Linked DNA regions of Homo sapiens. The protein of the gene in region 2 purifies or fractionates together with the protein of the main gene of each other region. This does not show direct contact. Each region holds a gene or a part of one and is shown on either strand. Other genes may lie near its edges.

Region 1 (12,180 bases), on a different chromosome or scaffold from region 2:
TGCGTGACAAGGATCTGTCCCATACCCTTGCTGAGCTGGGACAAAGCCACACTGCAGGGGCAGCTGCCTGCCTTGCTCCTCCCAGGTGCTCTGTGAGGCCCCATGCCCAGCTGGCGTGCTTTTCTGGGCAGCCTTCCCAGGGCTCGGTGAGCGTGGCCACAGCCGCCCTCACGTCTTGCTTCTCTCCTGTCTTCAAGCCAGTCCAAGCCTCCTCCCTCCTCAGTTTCTCCAGCGAGGGAGGGGGTGGTTCCTCAGGGATTTCGCTCAGTGCTTTGGGCTGGCTGAGACTCCTCAAGAAACCCTGGCTGGCTCTTGGAGCCTCTGTTTCCTCCTCGGTAGAATGGAAATGGGGAGACTTGCCCATACCCTGTGGAGATGTTTGGAGACGCAGATAATGTAAGTAAAAAGTGGAGAGCACACAGTAGGTGCTCAGGAAAATGTGCTCATAGGAGAGTTATGGGTGATGTCAGTCTTGTCCTGCTGTTTGGGCTGGGGCAATAGAGAGGCGCCAGCCGATGCCCGCACCATGTGGAAGCCCAGGTCAAACAGCAGCAGGTCTCGGGGAGAAGGGAACCCCAAGGGGCTCAGGTGCCTCAAATCCCCAACCTCCAGTTTGGCAGGGGCAGTGGGCCGTGGCCTTTTGGGCAGGGGTCCTGTGCCCTGGATCTTGCCCAGCTCCAAAGCTAGTAAGCCCCAGGGAGGCCACCCCCGCCAAGTGAAGTGGGCATGAAGACAGATGATGGCGAAGGGACTTCCATATGCACGAGATCAACTGTTTATTGATTTTTTTCCTCAAATACTACACATGTAAAGGAACTGTTAAACTGAAAAAGACTTGACAATTTTTGGTAAATCCGTAGCACAGAAATGAGGATTTCTGCTGGTAAGTTCTCAGGACAGACACAGACACAGGTCCACTTTCCAAGCAAGACATCTGCTCACTGGAAACGGAGTGAATGCATAGCTGGTGACGGCGGCGGGCACTGCTGAGTCACGTGAAACACAGGTTCCCCCACGTTCCCCCCACCCCCGCCGGCCCGCGTGGCCCCCGCGTAACTCTGGCTGCAGCACCTGCTCCCGGGCGACTCCGGGCAGCCCGAGACACTCGTGCTGCGGGTAAGACCCAGCTTCTGTTTGTGCACAAGTAACACGACGACTGAAATCTGCAACTACTGCAAAGACGCGGGCACTTTTACAGTGTTCTGCTACGGAGCCAGGACAAAGGCCGGTCAGAAGCCGGACCAGCAGTCAGCTGGTGACGACGAGCCTCCCTCCAGCAGGCACCACGTCAGAGAGGCCCCAGGCCCACTGAGCCCGGGAGGAGACCCAGCCGGCCAGCCAGACGTGTGCCTGAATGCCACAGACTTCAAGCAGTTTACAAACGAAACTCACTGTTAAAAGCTGTTAAATCTCATTAAAACAGTAGACGAGTGCTTTAGATTCTCTGAATATCAAATAATATATACAGATAGACACTGAGACATGACAGTCTAATCTAAAGCATCTTTACAGATGCATTTGCTTGAAAAGTTAGTCTTCTTTTTAACTCTGAATCAGTGATAAAATTGTTAATTTGCAAAAGAGTACAGTTTTAAGCAAGAATAGAGTGAAAATAATTTTTAAATATGGCGATTTGGGGGAGTTCTACCTAAGGTTCTATGTAAAGCTTCCATTCAGATGCCCAAAAGCACAAAGAGCATTCCCAATAGAAACCCGACCATAACCCGGTCCCACCTTCCTGGCATAATTCCTTTCCTCAAACATCTGCCACCTGAGGCTAAGCCTACACACGGCGTGGCTGAGTAACAGGGTAAGGGAATAGGGAGATCGTTTCCTCAAGACTGGTGCGCATCAATCTGTGCCATAATTTAAGTAGAAATGAACAGGTGTATAAAAAAGTATAACTGTACACAGCCTTTAAATTAAAAACCTCAAAATCTTCACTCAAAATGGGATGTAAGCTTGTTCATTTAAGTTGCAGGTGATGGACTCGTCAGAGAGAGTAATCAGTGGAACAAGATCAGTGTAACCCACCATTGACTCGGAAAGGAGAGACAAAGTCAAGAACATAGAGATCTATGATAGGCCAACAGGCACAGTGGGCGGGGAGGGGCGGCTATTTCTGTTGTTCTGCGTCTTCCTGCGCTCAGATCCCTCCAGCTGCACTCGGAAAGGTGCCGAGTCCCAGGCGAAATGACCAGCTCATCTGCCTTCCAGGAACACCATGAAGCCAAGAGCAATGGAACCATCATCTCTTGCAGGAAAAGGAGTGGATGCCCACGTGGCTGGCTGAGGCTCCTGGGCCCGCCGCCTCCGTCCCCCCGCTGGCCTGTCCCCGACTCATCACTGGATCGCCTCCACATAATTTGCCGGGTATAGGCCAACTTGCCCGTTGTCCAAGCGTCCCTTGCACCAGCCCTGCTCATCCTCGTCCTCCATCTTGGTCAGCTCATCCCCTGCAAGACAAAGAGGGAGCCGTCTCCATGAGAGGTATGACACCGACGGTGGGCTACAGAGCCGCATTCACGAGCTTTGAGCCCACAGAGGGTGGAGGGCCAGGCATTCTGTGGCGGGCAGGCCGAGGGCCTGGTCATTTCTCTACTAAATGCATGCATTTTAAGTTGCCTCTTTGGTCATGGGCCTCTGACAGACCTAGAGATGACAGTCTCACACAGTAATTTGGAACAAGCTGCTCTCAGCTGCCACAGTGGCTCCCACTGAGACTGCGGCATCCAGCTCCATAGGGCTGTGCCTTCCTCACCACCCTGGCCAGGTGGCAGGAATCGTCCCTCGGTTGTGCCCCTCCCTCACGTTGGGCCTCTTCTGTCCCCTCCCCAGGGCCCCGGCCGCCTTGCTCCCAGCAGCTGTCTCTGGGGTCTCTCTGCCTTTGCTAATCCCTCTCCTCTGCAACTTCCAGGCTGCGAGGGGAAGGGACCATGTCTGACAGTCATACCTGTCATTTTATCCCCAGCACCTGGCTGATGACTTGTGCACGGTGCCATGTGTCAACCCTTCCTGAGACCCTGAGAAGGAGCCCCTGGCGCTGTTCTGGAATCTCCCTGTGGCTCTAATGTATTAACGTGGTTCCATTTATCTTTGGTTGTTCCAACCTGAAGGACCTCCTACTTCTGGCCAGGCCTTGGGTAGAAGAGGAGATACAGAGATGAGAGGAACTGATGGATCCTGGTCTCAAGGAGGCAGACTAGGGTGGTGAGGGGGAGGTGGCACTAGGGTAGGGCCCCAGGTCTGGCATTTGCCAGGTTAGGGAAGCAGAGCAGCTCAGAGCCCAGGGGTGGGCAGGGGCCTGTGTGCTTCTGGTTGGTAACTCACTGCAGGGAAGGCCAGTTGGGCCTGCTGGCTCGGACCTCGTCAGGAGCAAGCAATTGGTGGGAAAGAAATAGTCCCAGTGCTGTTTTGCCTTTATTGCTAAGTTTGAAGTTTTGTAACTCTCTTTGGCATTTTTTGGTCCATTTTTCAGAATTAGATGCAGTTTTCCCCCTGGTTTAGCATTTCCCTGATGCTTTGGATTTTGTATGGCAGCAATGCTGGTCAACATGCCTGCGGAGCTAATACCTGGGGCTTCCAGTGCTCCCCGGACTGCCTGGGCTCAAATCCCACAGCCATCACTCACTGGCTGGGAGACCTGGACCAACTGCGTCCACTCCCTGGGCCTGTGGCCCTCATCTGTGGACTGGGGGTACTGTGAAGATTAAGTGTTAAGACACTAAAGAACCCTGGGAGGGTGGGACATGCGTAAGCACTGGCTCAGCCTCCCACTGTCGTGCCGCTTCTGCCAGACCAGTGCGCCTGCAGATCTAACCCAGAGGCATCAGGAGCAGATGCAGGGGCCACAGGGCAGCAGCCACGATGAACCACCATCTCTTTCCACCGCTTCGTGCCTCGGGCCCCTGGCGTTTCTTTTGTCCTGCCTTCATTGGTTGCTGTGCTCTCACAGGCCTGGATCCAGGCTACCGAGGCTAGGATGAGGCCTGTAACCCCACACTACCATGTGGCAAACAGCCAGAACACCGCAAGAGACGTAAGTCAAGCCACACTGGCTGGGAGCTAATTTTGCATTGTTAAAAAGCAGGATAACACAGAAAATAGAACGGACAGGAAAGCTTTCACATTGTGCAAATGTGAACTGGTGATTAGAAGGTTCATTTCAATCAGTTTGCTTTTGACAATTTACTTGGATCTGGAAGAAACATTTTAAATCTACAAAATTACTGTCAAACCCAATAGGCAGGATTGAAAAGGAGTTAGAAATTATAAACAAATAAACCAACAAAGTCGGGGGTAACAACCCCAACCAAAGATATCAGAAACTGGATGAAGATGGCTTAAAGGCACATTAAAAAAAAATCCAAAAAAACAAAAAAACCCAACTTCTCAAACTGGGCAGAGGCAGCTGATAACCAGCCCAGGGGAAGAGTGTCTGGGGACAGCAGGCTGGCACTCTGGGTGCTGAGGGGAGGAGGCTGAAGACTGGTTAGAAGCTAGGCCATTGGGCACAGCCCCCAGGCCCTGGCTTCCCTGCTGAGTCAGGGGTTGGGGTGGTGGTGGTAAGGCAGCCTTTCCCACAAGTGTAGCCTAGGGGCAAGGGCACACTTCAGCCTGTGTGGGTTGAGTTCTGGCCCAGCTTCCCTCTTGGAGTGGTAGATGCTGCTTCTGGGGGAGCTTCACAAAGAGGGCAAGAGAGGGAAGAATCTGGGTTGCTGTGGGTCCACTTTGGCCCTAGGCCACTCCAGCTTCCTTAGGTGCTAAGATAGCAATTTTCTTTCCTTTTTTTTTTTTTGAGACAGAGTGTCACTCCATCACCCAGGCTGGAGTGCAGTGGTATGATCTCAGCTCACTGCAACCTCCACCTCCCAGGTTCAAGTGATTCTCTTGGCCTCCCCAGTAGCTGGGATTACAGGTGTGTGCCACCATGCCTGAATAATTTTTTTATTTTTTAATAGAGGCAGGGTTTCACCATGTTGGCCAGGCTGGTCTCAAACTCCTGACCTCAAGTGATCCTTCGGCCTTGGCCTCGCAAAGTGCTGGGATTACAGGTGTGAGCCATCGTGCCCGGACAAGATAACACTTTTCAAATTGAAGATGTGAAAAGCCATTTTGGTAAACTGCAAATGCATTAAAAAAGATTCCTATAGTGGGTGGGGTGGTAGCACACATCTGTGGTCCCAGCTACGTAGGAGGCTGAGGTGGGAGGACTGCTTGAGCCCAGGAGATCAAGGCTGCAGCTGCTGTGAGCTATGATCGCACCACTGTAACCCAGCTTGGCTAACAGAGTGAGACCGTGTCTCTATTAAAAAAAAAAAAAAAAAAGATTATCATTGAAGACCATTCAAAGAAGAAAAAGACATTGCACAGAAAGTCTTCACAGGCAGAGCACATGTAATCAGGATCCAGGCTGTTTTATAAAACTATGGTTTCTGCTCCTAGCAACACAGATATGTGTGTGGGTTGGTGTGTGCATGGTAGGTGTGGGCAGGTAGGTGTGCACACACACAAGTTGCTGCCTGAGACAAGGCCCCACCTGGCCCAGGGGCATGCCAAGTGCTACTCTGGGGTCTGGGCAAAGCTGTGGCTCTCCTGAGGGCTTCTCTGGCAGTTGGGGACCCCTAGAGAAAGGCTTCTCTCATGGCCCTGCGGGGCTAGCAGCTCCCAGACTACATATGGGGGAACCTGGTGGTCCTGGCCAACAGCTTCTCCAGATGCCCTTCTGTGTGACTAGCCAGTGCCCTGCAATTCACAGCCTTGGCCCAGCAAGGTGAGGAGTCCAGGCACTGGCTTGGCAGCACCTCACTATTTCTGAGTCTTGGCATTGGGCATCCGCTTTTTTTTTTTTTTTTGAAAAAGAGTTTTGCTCTGTCGCCCAGGCTGGAGTGCAGTGGCGCAATCTCGGCTCACTGCAAGCTCCGCCTCCCGGGTTCAAGCAATTTTCCTGCGTCAGCCTCCCGAGTAGCTGGGACTACAGGCGGCTGCCACCACGCCCGGCTAATTTTTTGTATTTTTAGTAGAGACGGGGTTTCACACTCTTAGCCAGGATGGTCTCAATCTCCTGACCTCGTGATCTGTGTGCCTCGGCCTCCCAAAGTGCTGGGATTACAGGCGTGAGCCACCATGCCCAGCCTACTTTTTTTTTTTTTTAAGAGATGGGGTCTTGCTCTCTCTTCTAGGCTAGAGTACGTGGTATGAACATGGCTCACTGTATCCTCTTGGGTTTAAGTGATCCTCTGCCTCAGCCTCCCAAGCAGCTGGGACTATAGGTATGCAACACCACGCCCAGCTAATCTGCTACTTTTGTTTGTTTATTTATTTGAGACAGGATCTCGCTCTGTTGCCCAGGTTATTTATTTGTTTGTTTGTTTGCGACAGGGTCTCGCTCTGTTGTCCAGGTTGGAGTATAGTGGTACAATCATGATTCATTGCAACCTCAATCTACTGGGCTCAGGTGATCCTCCCACCTCAGCCTCCCAGAGAGCTGGGACTACAGGCATGTGCCACTAAAATTAGCCCAGCTAATTTTTTTTTTTTGACACAAAGTCTTGCTCTGTCACCCAGCCTGGGGTACAGTGGTGTGACCTTGGCTCACTGCAACCTCCACCTCCCAGGTTCAAGTGATTCTCCTGCCGCAGCCTCCTGAGTAACTGTGATTATAGATGCCCCGCCACACGCCTGGCTCATTTTTGTATTTTTAGTAGAGACAGGGTTTCACCATGTTGGTTAGGCTGGGCTCGAACTCCTGACCTCAAGTGATCTGCCTGCCTTGGCCTCCCAAAGGTGCTGGGATTACAGGCGTGAGCCACCATGCCTGGCCTAATTTTTTGTATTTTTTGTAGAGACAGGTTTTGCCATTTTGCCCAGGTTGGTCTCATACTCCTGGGCTCAAGCGATCCTTCCACCTCGGCCTCCCAAAGCTCTGGGACTATAGGCATGAGCCACCACATCCAGCCAATTGGCTGCTTTTGACAATGAAGCCAGGGCACTGGGGAAGGGCCTGCAGTGACTCACAAGTGAAACTAGCAAGAACTTTTCCAGACTTAAAAAACAAAAAAGACCGCCCACAGCCTGCAGGTTGGAAGCCCTCCTCCCCTGGATGCTGGGGGAGCCCACCTACCAGCCTTGAAGCTCAGCTCATCATGCTCCTGCCCCTCATAGTCATACAGGGCCCGGACTCGCACTTCCGTCCCCGAGGTGGCGTCGTCGTCGAATGGATTCGAGTCCCCATTGGCATCCGTGGAGGAGAAGGGGTTGTTAGACTCATCGTCTGACCAGTCGGTGGGATAGCTCTGGGTCTTCTCGTAGCTGCTCACACTGCAAGAAAGGGGAGGCCACAGGGCCCTCAGCACAGGGCGGCAGAGGGTGTGAGGCCCCCGCCCCGCAAGGGGAGGGCACTGGAGCCTTGGGGCTCAGGGCTGAGGGCTCCTTCCGAAGGAGCACAGGTGGAGCCAGTGCTAGTGTGAGTTCATGCCATCCACACTCATCCTGAGCCATCAACAGGCTTTCCAGGGGCAGGCGGCTGGAGATGCCCACAGCAGAGGCCAACCTGGGGCCTCACTCTCTAGTCCCCAGCACAGACTGCGCGTTGTCTGTTTTCCTGTCATGGTGCTGCTAGGGCCTTGAAGGGTTAACAGAGGACAGAGAAAAAGCAACTTAAGATTGTTAGCTGTGCCCTCCCCGAGGAATGGGGGTGCCAGAGAGCCTGTGCCAGAGAGCAGGTAGTGGGCCAGGGTGCGGCACGCCAGGTGCCCACTTCCTGCAGAGCTCCGTGCATTGCCGAGTGCCGAGGGGTGAGACCCCTGGACAGAGAGAGAGGAAGAGAGACAGAGTGAGCGCGGTGGGAGCAGAGGAAGCATTTGTTCACCAACTTTTTGGCCTTAGTGTCGTCCTTCTCACTGACGGTGCTGCCCGTGTCGTCCTCATCCTCGAAGGGGTTGTAGCTGGACTGTGACTGCGCAGACTGGGCGGGGTTGCTCGGGACATTAAGGGTGCTATGGAGAGAGAGAGCTTTCAGGGGATCCCAGCTCTGCAGGGGCCCGTGAGGGTCCTGGCAACTCCTAGCTGCAGGATCTCAAGAGACAAATCAGCTCCTCCTGTGACCGGAGGGGACCGTGGTGTTTCAACAGAAAGGTTACTATGGCAGAATGCGGGCAATACTTCAGCTGTGAAACACGGTCCAGGAGCCTAGGAGAGGACTTGGTTTCCCTTTTCCTTCCTTGCACCTGGAGACAGTCCGTCCAGAACAGGGGCCCTGGGGTGGCCCAGGGGCGGGTGACAAGCCACAGCTGGAGCAAAAGTCGTTTCCAGGTTCAGGGCTTCTCCTCTGTCCTGACTCCCACCAATGTGAGCTGGGGGGGTCAAAAAGCCCCTCAGGGTCTCCTCTGAGAGTGACAGTGTGGGAGGGGCCGGCTCCCATGGATGAGTGGGAGAGGGCTCTGAGCTCTTCAGCCCACACGGCCTCCTCCTGACTACTAAGGGGTTCAGGGCTCGCTCTTCTGCTCTGTGGAGCTGAAGCCTCCAAAATCAGGGCCAGGGCCTGCGGCACCGTCTTTTCTAGATAGAAAGAAGATTCCTTTGGTGCTCCAGAGGGAAAATCCAGTCGTGCAACTGCCTACTGTTTGCCAGGCCCAGTGTGGGAACCAGAGAGATCTGGGCCAAGCTCTGCCTGAGGGCTGGGAGCCGGGAGCTGAGTTACACACTACGAAGACCACAGGCAGACCATCAAGCAATCCAATCAGACAGGCACCAAGGGCCCTGGCACCCCACCAAGTAACTGATCCTAGGACCGGGCTACCCTGGCCAGCAGCACCTTCTACTTCCAAGACCAGGGCCTCAGGGCACAGGCCCCCAAAGCACTGGATGGACTGCTCAGCCTGAGCACCCACCACCCCAGAACCAAGGAAGGGAGGCGAGGACATGCCTCCAATGCCACCAGGGTGATCCTGAGTGGCCAGTAACTGCCTCATCCACTTCAGCCTGGCAAGTGGTACTTGACCTAGGCCTGCTGGAGGCCAATATCCAGGCCACATGTCTGAGCTCACCGGCCCTCCTCCCTCCTTGGCACCTTTCTCTAGCAGACTGTTGTGAGACGGCACTGGTGGGGGCGGCTGGATTGTGCAGCAACCCTGGCCAGCCCAGGGCCCCCAGGGTCTCCTCTGAGGCAGTGTTTCTTCTTTCCCATTCCCACCCCCAAGCATACAGGTGCTGGCCTGATCCCTGGGACAGGCACTTACTGCCGAGCCCACCTGCCCAGACAGCGTGCAAAGCAGCGGAATGACGACAGCCACACCTGCTGGGGAGCCTGGGTGGGGGCTTCAGTGCCTGGGGCTGCAGGAAGGCCAAGGGAACCTGGGCTAAGCCTTCTTAGGAAGCCCCCGTATGAAATGACTATTACTGAGTGTCACATGGAGGCCTGTGGGCAGGTCCTATAGGAAGACCTCCTCTAGCACACACTTTCCAGAAGGTTCTAATGACCACAGTGCCACCCTTATATCTCTCATTTTCAGCCAATGACTAAGTCAGAAATAACCAATGCTCCTAGTGAAGAGGTAATTTGGAAAGGAGATGCCTGGCAGTCCTCTCCTGTCCCTCCCTCGACTGGCGCCTGCACACAATACAGAGTGAGCATGAACCTCGGCAGGACCTCAGCTGCCTGAGGGAACCAGGGTGGCACCTCCACCAGTGTCCGGGCAGGGCGGTGCTATCCCTGGGGACATGAATGCCAGCCCTGTCATCAGCTCCTCCCCACTCAGGTCTGAAGCTCAGGGCCAAGCCTCCCTCTCTGGATCTGTCAGCAGCTCTGGCACCAGGCAGGAAGACGACCTTCCCTGGAGATGCCCCTGGGCCACGGCCCACAGAGCTCAGGAGCCCAGGAACCTCCCAGGTGTCCAGGCTGGGCCACGGCCCACAGAGCTCAGGAGCCCAGGAACCTCCCAGGTGTCCAGGCCGGGGCTGCCCTGGACCATGCAGATTGCCCAGGGCCCCCACCATGGAACGGCCTCTTTTGGATGGAGGTGGCGCCCACTCACCTGCTGGGCTTACTCGGCAGAGACTGGTCGCCTGTCTGGTTGATGCCCGTCAGGGTGACGCCGTCAGTGGCCTTCTTCTTCTCTCTCCGGCTGAGGGTTCGATTCAGGTCTGCGGACCACTCCTAGGCAACAGGTGCCGAGGGAGAGAAACCAAAGGTTCACTACTTGCTGGAAGCCACGTCTGTCCTCAGTTCCTGCCCAGCGAGCCTGCAGTTGGCTCTGTGCATCTGATGTGTAGACTCAGGGCCCCAGCTCTCCCTGGTTTCCCAGAAGACCTCAGGCTCCCCATGCCCCACTTATGAACCCAAACGACCTGAGCCCCTCCTCACTGTTCAAAGCAGGGGCTCATCAGGGGATCTGGAGGCTTGCACCTCTACAACCACCCCCAGGCCATGCTGCCCACCTCCCAGAGGACCAGCGGGGGTGGCGAGGACCAGGGCAAGGTCCGGGGCCTCCTGTTCCTGACCCCACCCACCAAGGTTCTCAGTCCCAGCCCCCTCAGGCCAGCATGGGCCCCTGTGGCCTCCCCAGATGTCTGCTGAGCCTCCCAAAGTAGACAGGAGCCAGCCTCTGAGGCACCTGTCCTGAAGTGCTGAAGATCCTTTGCGTCGATGCCCTAAATTGTCCCTGGGCCACAGGGTCAAGACAGTTGGCTTCGGAGACCTGAGCAAGCCTGCCATGTGGAAAGGCAGGTGCAAATAAAACCAGGTGCAAATAAAGCCACTGCAAATAAAACCAGGGCTAGGTGGCTACCCGCTGACAGAAGGGGCAGGCAAGCAGACTCTCAGTCTCCAAAGCGCAGGGCCCTCCCCAGTGTTTTGCTGCCCTGGGACTTTTCCTCTGTGATCTGAGCACATGCTGGGGCTAACGAAGCAAAGCAGAGTACGCTCCTCCTGGAAGCCTCACGAGTTCTCGGGTGGCGAACTGGCTTCACCAACCGCACTGAAAATGGACTAGGGCAAAACCATGAATGGAGACTGTGTCTTGATTTTCTAGAAGAGTCTGTGCATGCCCGCAGGTGTTTAATGAGCTCTCCTTCCCCCCATCTCCACCAGTTACCAGACAACTCTGATTAAAACTTGGTGTGGCTGAGTCCACGGCTCTGCTCACACGTACTTACAGAACTTTTGGGTTGGAAGCCAACTCAGAAGCATCCTGTCTAACCTGTCCATTTGTCAGATTAGGAAACTGAGGCCCAGAAAGGCAATGTGATTTGCCCACGCAGTGTGGGTGGCAGACTTGGGCCCGACCCCAAATCTGGGTCACCTTTTCATCTATTAATTATTTTCTGACCAAAATAGATTGACTGAGAACTCAATTGGAACCTCAGAGTTCTCCACAGTGACCTCTGAATATAAATTCATCCTGATTGGGTGGCTTCCAAAGGCCAATGGGATCAACACCAAGCCGGCACTGATGGGAAGGGCCGGCTCTCAATACCCCTGACAGCAGCGCAGCCTCAGCTGAACTGCTAGGAGCCTAGCGGGGGCAGCACACCCACCCATGCGGGCCACAGACACCCTGCATGGCGTATGGCACTCTATGAGGTAGCCGAACGCAGACACTTACTTCATCCTTGTGGCATGAAAAATAAAAACAAAGAATTGCATTAGAGAAAGGCATGGTCCCGTAACAGCTGCAAATGTGCGCAGAATGAATGCACAGGGGCTGGTTCCCAGCCCATGGACCCACAGAGAGAAGGACCCCCTAGGCTCTGGCTGGGACACCCTCCAGGAGACAGACTGTCAAATAGTCCTCCCCACTGTGCCCCTCTTTGGGTATAATGGGCACCTCTAAGGGACCCAGGCGAATTTCACAGGTGGTTTCCTGTGCCACTCCGGGAGCAGCAAATCCTCGCTGTGTCTGAAACCCCAGCTGTGCACAAAACACGTCAGCCAAGACTTCCTGGTGTGTGGCTCCAGAGGAGAGGCTGGGCTTTGTGCTGTCCCCTCTAGGGCCGCTTCCAGTCAGGACGGCTCTGGCCCTCCATGCTCTCTCAGTGCCTCTGTGGAAGGGGCACAGCTGCTCTACTGCCTCCTACTGGGAGCAAGTCCTGGGGCTGGCGCAGGGGAGTGCTCGGCAGCAGGGCCCACACTGTCATTTGGAAAAACCTTCCTGTTAAGGGCCATAAAAGAAGTGCAGGAGT
Region 2 (10,480 bases):
GGCTTCTCAATGGGGAAGTTTGAGCAGTGAGGGATACCTAGGGGAAGAGCTCCAGGCAGATAGATCCTGATGCAGGAGCATGCCTGGAGCAGTCAAGGAACAAGATCACACTGAGGATGTGGTATTTGAGCAGAGACCTGAAAAGAGTGAAAGAATGAATCATGTCCATAGGGAAGAACATTCCAGGCAGAGGGAACAACAAAAGTACAAAGGTTCTCAGGTAGAACTTTGAGGGAACAACAAAGGAGACCAGGAGGCCTGGGGAACAATGAGTAAGGCAGAGAGGGAACAGAGGCTTGTAGGCCACTGTGCGGACTTTGGCGTTTAGTCTGAGCTGGGGACCCACTGGAGGATTCTGAGCAGAGCAGTGACATGATTGCGCTTACATTTTTAAGACTTACTCTGGCTGCTGTGTTGAGAACAGATGACCATGGGGCATAGACAGAAGCAGAAAGGTGAGTTGGAAGCTATTCCAGTAAAGCAGGCCAGAGATGGAGGAGGTCTGAACCAGGTGATAGAGGGAAGAGTTAGAAAAAAGTGTCTGGATTCTGGATATGTTCTGAAGGTATGTTGTGCCGAAGGCTAGATGTGTGGTATGGGAGAAAGAGCAAGGTCAAGTACGACTTCAGGGCTTTTTTTTTTTTTTGAGACAGTTTCACTCTTGTTGCCCAGGCTGGAGTACTATGGTTCGATCTTGGCTCATCACAACCTCTGCCTTCTGGGTTCAAGCGGTTCTGCCTCAGATTCCTGACTAGCTGGGATTACAGGCATGTGCCACCACACCCAGCTAATTTTGTATTAGTAGAGATGGGGTTTCTCCATGTTGGTCAGGGTGGTCTCCAACTCCCAACCTCAGGTAATTCTGCCCGCCTCGGGCTCCCAAAGTGCTGGGATTACAGGTGTGAGCCACTGCACCCAGCTGAGGGCTTCTGACCTGAGTAACTGGGAGGACAGGCTTGGAGGGTAAAAGAAGAATCATATCTTAGACATGTTAATTTTGAGATACTCAGCCATGTAGATGGACTTGTTGAGTAAACAGCTGGATAACCAAATTGAGAATTTAGGAAAGAGGTCCAGGCTGGAGATGGAAATCCAGGAATCTTTGGTTGTAGACTGTGCAAGCTACAAGACTGACAGAAGCTCATTTAGGCCTAGGGAGTGTAGCTATAGAAGAAGACATCCACAAAGCTGAGTGCTCATCACTGGGGCCCTCCAACCAGGGACCAAGGAGGTAAAGAGATGGAGCAGAGTCCAATGAGAGGGGAGAAAAACCAAGAGAGTCCAACTGAAGAAAGTTTCAGGAAGGACGCAACTGTGCCAAATGCTGATGAGTCTAGAAATGAGATCATACTGTTTTGCAACTACTTTTTTCCCTTTAGCTACATAATAAATATGAAATCTTAACAGATAGTATGAAGTTTTAATAGATGCAGGGAATTTTTGCCATTATAAACAATTCAGCATCTTTGTAGCTCTAAGTACGTCCCTAATAATTTACTTTTATTATTAAATATTATAAATGGACAAATTATAATTTTATATAAGGTACAAAGCAATATTTTCTCTCTATATATACATATACACACACACACACGAGTGAAATGATTAAATCAACATAATTAACATCTATCACCTTAAATACTTATCATTTTGTGTGGTGAGAACATTTAAAATTTACTCTTTTAGCAATTTGGAAATACGCAGTCCACCATTATTTATTTATTCATTTATTTTGAGACAGGGTCTCACTCTGTCATCCAGGCTGGAGTGCAATGGCACTATCTCGGCTCACTGCAACCTCCACCTCCTGGGCTCAAGTGATCCTCCTTCCTCAGCCCCCCAAGTAGCTGGGACTACAGGTATGCACCATCATGCTCAGCTAATTTTTTTTTTTTTTTTTTTTTTTTTTTTTTTTTTTTTGGTAGAGATGGGGTTTCACCATGTTGCCCAGGCTGGTCTCGAATTCCTGGGCTCAAACGATCCACCCACCTCAGCCTTCCAAGGTGCGGGGATTACAGGTGTGAGCCACCGTGCCCAGCACCACCATTATTAACTGTAGTTACCATGTTGTGCAGTGTTATCTCAAAAAATGTATTCCTCCTAACACTGTACACTTTGACCAACATCCTAATGATTTGCTTAGGATAAACTCTTACATATGGAATTGCTTGATCAAAAGTGTCCATGATTTTAAGGATTTTGCATACTGTCAAGACTGCTTTGATTCAATGACCAATAGTACAACAGAGTGTCCATTTTACTACACGGGTATTATAATTAATTTCTCATTTTTTGCCAATTCTATAGGTGCAAATTGAGCTTACATTTGACTACTAATAAGTTTGAACATATTTCCTATCTTCAATGGCAATCTGCATTTTGGGGGGTGAATTTTTCATTGTTAGCCCATTTTTCTATTGGTATCTGTGGCTGCTTCTGATTAACTCATATGCAAGAGGTTCCTGTATACTAAGGATGTTAACCCATTTTTCTGCCATCCATCTCAGGTTATATGACTTTTCATTTTATTTCTGGCATTTGATGTGGTATTAAGTTTTTATGCAGTGAAATCATTAATATTTTCATTTATGGCTTTTATCTTTATGACATTTAGAAATTCCTTCTCTCCCCAAGATTACAAAACTGAATACATGGAATTTCTGAAGTGATTTGTTAGTAAAGCCATTTATTTTTTGCTTTAGGAAAAACTGTCCTCCAGAAAGTTTTCTTGCTTTCTTTTGCCTCCTGATACTACATTTTAAAAGACTATATATGGGCCGGGCGCGGTGGCTCATGCCTGTAATCCTAGCACTTTGGGAGGATGAGGTGGGCAGATCATGAGGCCAGGAGGTCGAGACCATCCTGGCTAACATGGTAAAACCCCATCTCCACTAAAAATGAAAAAAAAAAAAAAAAAAAAAAAATAGCCGGGTGTGGTGGCAGGCACCTGTAGTCCCAGCTACTTGGGAGGCTGAGGCAGGAGAATGGCATGAACACGGGAGGCAGAGCTTGCAGTGAGCTGAGATCCCGTCACTGCACTCCAACCTGGGCCACAGAGTGGGACTCCGTCTCAAAAAAAAAAAAAAAAAAAAAGACCATATATGGATTCTGTTTCCACAAAAGTCCTATTGAAATCACAACATTTAAAAAATAGAATCCAATAATGTTAAGGCCAAATGGGAAAAAAGGGGAAAAAGTAAACCTATCTTTGGGGCACGAAGGAAGATAAGCTACAAGGTATTGCATGCATCACTGTTACATATATTTTTAGAATTTTTGTATTTTCTATCCTCTTTTCATAAAAAGATTGGAGAAATTTCAACACATTTCTTTTCAAACCTAGTCATCATTTTTTGGTTTTAACCACAAATTTAAACTGTCATCCTAGGTGGCTCCACTGTCTAACTCAATGAGTCTTAAGACAGAGCTGATTTGGCACAGTGCAACTGTTTAAGTAATGAAGAAGGGTTGAAAGTAGTGACACGTGTTTCCGATGCTTTTTTCCATATGTGACTTTTTAGGAAAATATCACTGGCAATGTAGCAAAGGTGTAAGAGTCTCGGCCCAGGAGTCAGGCTTTGGACTGAAACCCAACTCTGCCATTTATTACCTGCAGGATCTTGGGCGAATTATCTGACATCTCCCAGCCTCCACTGTCTCTTCTGTGTAACAGGGGAAACAGACCTACCTCACTGAGTTCATGCAAGGATTAAATGAGATAATGCATGTAAAGCACTCCACCTGGCACACAGTAAATACACAATAAAATTAGCTTCTATTGTTATCTTAGCATCTTTTACATTCATGCTTAAATTCTGTGAGTGTTCCATTACCTCTTTTGCTAGTTTCTGTCCTTGTTCCACACATATAGGTTTTTCTTTCATATCATTCAGTCTTGCTAAAGTTTTGGGGTCATCTCGGAGATCAATCTAATTAAGAAAGGTCAATAATGTCCCATAATATTACAAATCTTTAAAGAAAAATCAAAGCATGTAATCCCACTTAATTCCCACATACCAAAAAAAGATTAAACAAAAGAACTTAATTTTTAAAAACCAGGAAAATAATTGCTTTCTTTTGGCACAATTTTTTCCAAAAATATGATAGAACTCATTAACTTGCAGCTGAGATTAAACACTTACATCATTTGCTCAGCTTTGGGACTGTTTGTCTGAGAGCAGCCTCTACGACAGACCAAAGAGCTTATTCTAAAATGCAGAAAATCAAACCAGACATACCTGAGTTCCTATTAATAAAAAGGGTACATTTGGTGCGTATTCCTTAAGTTCCGGTACCCACTCCTCTTTCACATTTTGAAATGAGGCTGGATTTACCACCGAGAAGCATATAAGGAAGACATCGGTCATTGGGTAAGATAAAGGCCTCAGACGGTCATAGTCTTCCTGAGGAACAAAGAAAAGCCTCATTATGTATTTACATTTCTATTGTTTACTAGTAATATGTACATTAGATTACATGGTCAAAGATGCAAATTCAGGAGTACTCCACTAGTGGAATGTATGGCACTCTAAGTAAAATCAGATAACTCTGTTTTTGTTATTCTTCTTTGTGAAGTTCTGAACACCCATGAGGTAAAAAAAAATGACAATATCATTAACAATGACAATGAAAACTTTGGAAAAATACATTATGATCACTAACGCTGTCACTAAAAACATTTTTAACTAAAAAGTTTGCACAAAGAATTGAATATAGCTAGACATTGCCTAAGTATTATAATTTATAATAATTAATACATGCTAAATATTTACTATGTGTCAGGCACTAGTCTATATGCTCTCTCATGGATTACTTATTTAATCCTTGTAACAACAATATGACACAAGTACCCTTAATCCTGACTTTCATTTGAGTAAACTGAAGCACAGAAGTTAAATTACTTGCGTAAGGATGTGTAGCCAGTAAGTCAAGGAGCTGAGATTCAAATCCTGGCAGTTTTTACTCCAGAGTCTATACTCTTAACCACTATACAGCTTCACTGAGACCTTCAAGCTTTGCTTTCCTTGTTTCTATAGTTTTATTAATTGTGTGTGTGTGTGTGTGTGTGTGTGTGTGTGTGTGTGTGTGTGAAGATTTAAAGAGAAACATACACAGTAAACCCACCAAAATCCTCCTTTACTCTCCAACTTTCATTCCCTCTACTTAATATTTTCATGTTTATTCTTCCAGTTCTTTTTCTATGCATGAATATACCAGTAACTGCACATATTCATACATCTGTACATAAAATGAAATCATGCAGTACTTGTTGTTCTGCACTTTCTTTGTCTTGGACATCTTTCTAAATCAGAATACGTTAGACTACCATATCATTTTACACTGTTGCTTCAGAGTCCCCAGAACAGCTATACTCCTGATGGTTATTTTAGTCTCTATCACAAAAGGCAGTGAATATCCTTTTTTGCATAGACTATTTTATGTGACACAAAATTCTACTTATTTACATTCTCGAGAGTGAACAGAGTCCGGATTCCATTTTTGGCATAGCTAGACTCTCATCTGGTTTCAAAGAAACTTTATTTTTAGCCTGGGCCACCTCCCCTCTTAAATGACTCGTTTCACTACAGAACTACACAAATGTGGAACTAAGGGAATATTAAAAACATCATCTTCCACTTGGAGTTTCAGCAGTAGTATTTCCCTCATGGAACAATTTTCCTTTCATGCATTTTTCTGACATTTTTCATAATATAACTTTCAACTAAAGCATGTTAATGTCCCAAACCCTTGACTGGTGGGTAACCCTTTTGTTTTTCTGTGATGCTTTTGAAGGGCACACCTATAATCTAGAGCTGTGGGCATTAAAAGATTTCTCAGGTGTTCGCTATCACATGACGACAGGGGAAATGCCACCCCCAATCTTCTGCAACTTTTATTTTTTAAAGTGAACGCCTCTAAATGGTTTTGATTAAAGCAGTGCCCTGGTGTTAAGAAATTCACAATGAAGAGATCAAATAGGGTGGGTATGAAACACGTTATACCCCCAGACAGTTACTAGAGGAAGACTTCTTGAAAATTTAACTTTTTAAAAATCAGCTTGTGTTAAACAGTACAATTGAGTGCCTTATATGTACTTTCTGGGCTCTACTGCCTGTTTCAAACTGCAAGTCCATAAAAGAAAAAAAAAAAAAAGAAACAGTATGTCATCTTAGCATCCCACCCAGCAACTCCACACTTCTGAGCAAACATGCAGTTGTCATGGCCGGGAAATGGGGTGTTCTCATTAAAAAGCACTCCTCATCCATATTTAGATTTCCAATTTTCACAGAAATAGGAATGGGGATACTATCCCTTAGGATTATGAGGAATAAATGAAATAGTGCAACTAAAGCACTCCGCATAACACCTCGCACATCGAAGAACTCTTTCAATGCTTAAACATAAATTCTCTATCCCATGGGAAACCAAGTCTCTTATTCCTCTGCAAATCCACGCAGGGTCCCCTGAGTCCCACACTTGCCTCAGCTTTGCAGCTCCCTCCAATCACAGAGAAGTCTTTTAGTAAGAAATAAAATCAAAACACACAAAACTCAGGTCTCTCGAGACAGTATAATTTTCAGATGAATAAAAGAGAATGATATATTATTACTGTACTCATTAGTCACTTAGCCTTAAGACTATTTAAAATGTAACAAAAATAGATTTATATTTAAGAAAGCCAAATTAGAGATTTTAATGGAAATTTTACTTTTCAAGCAAGTTTACCTCCTCAGGGAAACAGAAGTGTGCGCTCTTTCTCTAGTGAGAGATGACAAGAAATAAAAACTAATTGAATGCCATGTTCCCTAGAGATGCTTAACAATATTAATCCAAGTATTTTACAGAAGGTAAATATATTGTACAGATTCCTTTCATAACCACAGTGAATCCTGACTTTCCTCCATGAGAGACGTGAGCACAAAGGAGGACAATTGGACCAATCATTTCTAGATATTTCTTAAATTGCAGGTTTTGTTTGATTAATTAAAATGTGAAGAACTGGGGCTATTAAAAAATAAAACACACATATGTTTAGACCTCCTTGGAAAGAAATGTTACTTCTTAAGTCTGAACAATCTAAAATGAATTCCTTCTGCCTGTCATCTCTGGCTAAATAATTGGCAGTTAGTGGCCGGGCATGATGGCCCACACCTGTAATCCCAGCACTTTGGGAGGCCGAGGTGGGACTCTTGAGGTCAGGAGTCCAAGATCAGCCTGGCCAATGTGGTGAAACACCATCTCTACTAAAAATACAAAAATTATCTGGCCGTGGTGGTGCACACCTGTAATCCCAGCTATTCGGAAGGCTGAGGCAGGAGAATCACTTGAACCCAGGAGGTGGAGGCTGCAGTGAGCAGAGATTGTACCACTGCACTACAGCCTGGGCAACAGAGCTAAACTCCGTCTCAAAAAAAAAAAAAAAATCGGCAGTTAGTACAAGAATGAGACCTTTCTGCTTCTATCCAGCTGAGTAATTAGAAGTCTAATAATAGCAAATTTAGAAAATAAATTATCCCCTGTGCATACTGTACCCTGCATCATATAAAATGGTTCATATGCATCACATAGTATCCTGTGTGAATTTAATATGAAATGTGGGATTTGGGAATGAATAAGTGGAGGTGTGCAGAATCTTTCATCTTCAGCCATATATTTTAAATTTGAGAACACAAAGAAGTCAAATGTAGAGCAACTGCCCTTACTTTTAAAAGATCGACTTATCAAAGTCACAACTTCTCACAGCCAACTCTCCAGTGTCCTCCTAATTAACAAACCCATTATATTTTAGTTCTAATTTTAAAATGTAGGTATTTAAACATTTCAGCATGGTAACTAGAACATTCTCAGGAGTACAGAAAAGTGTATTAAAGACAGCTGTTCAACATCAAAACAATGAAAGAACTGGTGAGTTTAGTCAGCATGGCTGTTGGACTGCATGGCAGACTCTTTAGCTTCTTACCAATTGGCTAAGTACCAGAAGTATCAAGTTTTTAAGTGTGTTCTGGCAGCTTAGTGTTCAGGCTGTCCCTTGTTGAAGAGTCCTCGATATGTGATAATGACAACCTTACTTTAAAAATATCACACATGGCCAGGTGCGGTGGCTCACACCTGTAATCCCAGCACTTTGGGAGGCCGAGGTGGGGAGATTGCTTGAGTCCAGGAGTTCAAGACCAGTCTTCCCAATGTGGTGAAATCCTGTCTCTACTAAAAATACAAAAATTAGCTGGGCATGGTGGCACATGCCTGCAGTCCCAGCTACTCAGGAGGCTCAGGTGGGTGGATCAGTTGAGCTCAAGAGGTTGGGCCTGCAGTGAGCCATGAACATGCCTGGGTGACAGAGTGAGACCCTGTCTCAAAAAAAAAAAAAAAAAAAAAAAAAAACACACACTTACCACCTGATAAGAATCTGCAAACAAAAAACTAAAGAAATGCGCTCTGAGAGGAAACAAAAGCTCTTCCAATGCCACAGAGAAATGTAGCCAATGGCCATCAGCTGGAGACCCCTTTCTGTGTGCAGCTCAGCCAGCAGTGCCCATGAGCCTTACTTCTGCACTATTCTTTGTCCCCTTCATGTGGACCTGGGTGTTCCCTCCTACCTTAGTGATCTCTGTTTAAAATATATGTTTTTGGGATGTGTATGTCTATTTTAAAATACATATCCAAAACATTTCTTAAATAAAAACACTCACATTGGACGATTTACCTTGTGCCATGCTTTGTTAGCTGGTATGCTATCATGTATTATTTAAAAGCAATCAGCAAAGATTTATTGAGACTATAGCCCTCTGGAGCTTGCAGTTTAGTTGGGAATTCAAGATATAAACATATAAAAAGACAGTCATATACAACAATAGGAGGGAATAAAAGTGTAAGCTGGAGCAAGTGAATATAGAAATGCTTAACAAACATTACTAAGCACCTACTATGTGCCCAGAACAGTGCTAACTGCAATAAATAAAGGAGGGAAGGATGAGATTCAAATAACATCTATTTGTAAAACACCTTATAAACATTTACAAAGCTCTCTCATTAAGTATCTATATGTTAAAAATAAGGCAATGCACTTGAATGTGCAGCAGTGCCCACAATGTGCCTGGACACCACTCCAGCGCCTTGCAGACCTCCAAGCCACAGCCTAGAAGAGGAAACTGCAGGCTGGTGTGGGAACGTGCATCAGGTTAGCACCCAAGAAGAACAATTCTGATAGGTGAGGAGATACACACAAATGCATAACAGCTTTCGATCTTAGGAAGTTCATGGTAAGGTAGATAAGATGTATGTGAACATGATATTACAAGTTAGAATGTGGTAAATATAAAAAGTAGTAATGAGGGGACACTAAGAAAAGACCTCTTGGAAGAGGCACTTGAGTTGGTCCTTACAGAATGGAGAGAACTTGAACGTATCCAACATGCTAGGAATGCGACTTTAGTCCAGTCCCTTATTCCTTAGGGCCTTAGTTTCTCTGTCTGAAAAACGGGAGACTTATCAGTGACAAATGCTTTGAAGACCATAAAGTACTATAGGAATGTATTACAATCCCAAATAATGCAGGATAGTACTTTGATGTAAGAAATAGTCATTTATCAAAACCTACTAGAGTTTTCCTCTGTAACAACCTAGAATGAGAAACAACCTAGAACAAGGGGTAACAGATAAGCCCCAGCCTTCCCAAATCTAAAGCAGCTTCTGACTACGTGAAGAGAGACATAAAACATATGACAACTAAGTAAGAATATCCCTGAAAAGTGGTGGCTTTGTGGTCTGTGCAGTAGCAATTCTCTGTGTCACTTCCAAGGCACACAGTAGTAATCTTCATCTACAACATCTGTTTCTAGCGAGAAGTCCAAAACAGGCATCGAGCTCTTGAAACCCTCCACCCTTCAAAGGGTGCTACACAGAAGTCCAGAGGACACATGTCATGAAGCCAGCTTCTGAGAATGCAACTGTTTTCTCCTACATCTAACTTATATATCACAACATGTCTATGGTAATGCTTGGTCAGAGTAGCCTATGAAACCTCATTTCTTTTTTTTTTTTTATTTTTTGAGATGAAGTCTCACTCTTATAGCCCAGACTAGAGTGCAATAGCACAATCTCGGCTCACTGCCACCTCTGCCTCCCGGATTCAAGCAATTCTCATGCCTCTGCCTCCTGAGTAGCTGGGATTACAGGTGCCTGCCACCATGGCTGGCTAATTTTTTGTATTTTTAGTAGAAACGGGTGTTCACCGTGTTAGCCAGGAGGGTCTCAATCTCTTGACCCTGTGATCCGCCTCCCTTGGCCTCCCAAAGTGCTGGGATTACAGGCATGAGCCACCACGCCTGGCCTGAAACCTCATTTCTATTGTGCAGTCATTTTGACACTTTTGAGTTCATTTTATATTTAACTTTGTGAAATGAAAATATCAGTTTTTACCTCTTTAAAAATAACTCTGTTTTTCAAGGAAGCTGGGTTGGGTCCTTTTTGAAAACACTTT

The links.
Region 1: the proteins of RHOQ (region 2) and PACSIN2 purify together in Homo sapiens (affinity purification with mass spectrometry; 2 studies listed by BioGRID and IntAct, with this or other methods). This does not show direct contact.

Annotation. Positions count from the first base shown.
Region 1 is NC_000022.11:42,869,014-42,881,193, forward strand, and holds the end of PACSIN2 (protein kinase C and casein kinase substrate in neurons protein 2), read right to left. Parts: intron 11,610-12,180; coding exon of another isoform or gene 11,604-11,609; intron 10,157-11,603; coding exon 10,035-10,156; intron 7,998-10,034; coding exon 7,875-7,997; intron 7,321-7,874; coding exon 7,124-7,320; intron 6,518-7,123; exon of another isoform or gene 3,479-6,517; intron 3,447-3,478; exon of another isoform or gene 2,972-3,446; intron 2,491-2,971; exon of another isoform or gene 2,457-2,490; coding exon 2,344-2,456; 3' UTR 760-2,343; downstream 1-759.
Region 2 is NC_000002.12:46,570,010-46,580,489, reverse strand, and holds part of RHOQ (rho-related GTP-binding protein RhoQ), read right to left. Parts: intron 4,404-10,480; coding exon 4,239-4,403; intron 3,930-4,238; coding exon 3,834-3,929; intron 456-3,833; exon of another isoform or gene 252-455; intron 1-251. UniProt on the Homo sapiens protein: Plasma membrane-associated small GTPase which cycles between an active GTP-bound and an inactive GDP-bound state. In active state binds to a variety of effector proteins to regulate cellular responses. Involved in epithelial cell polarization processes.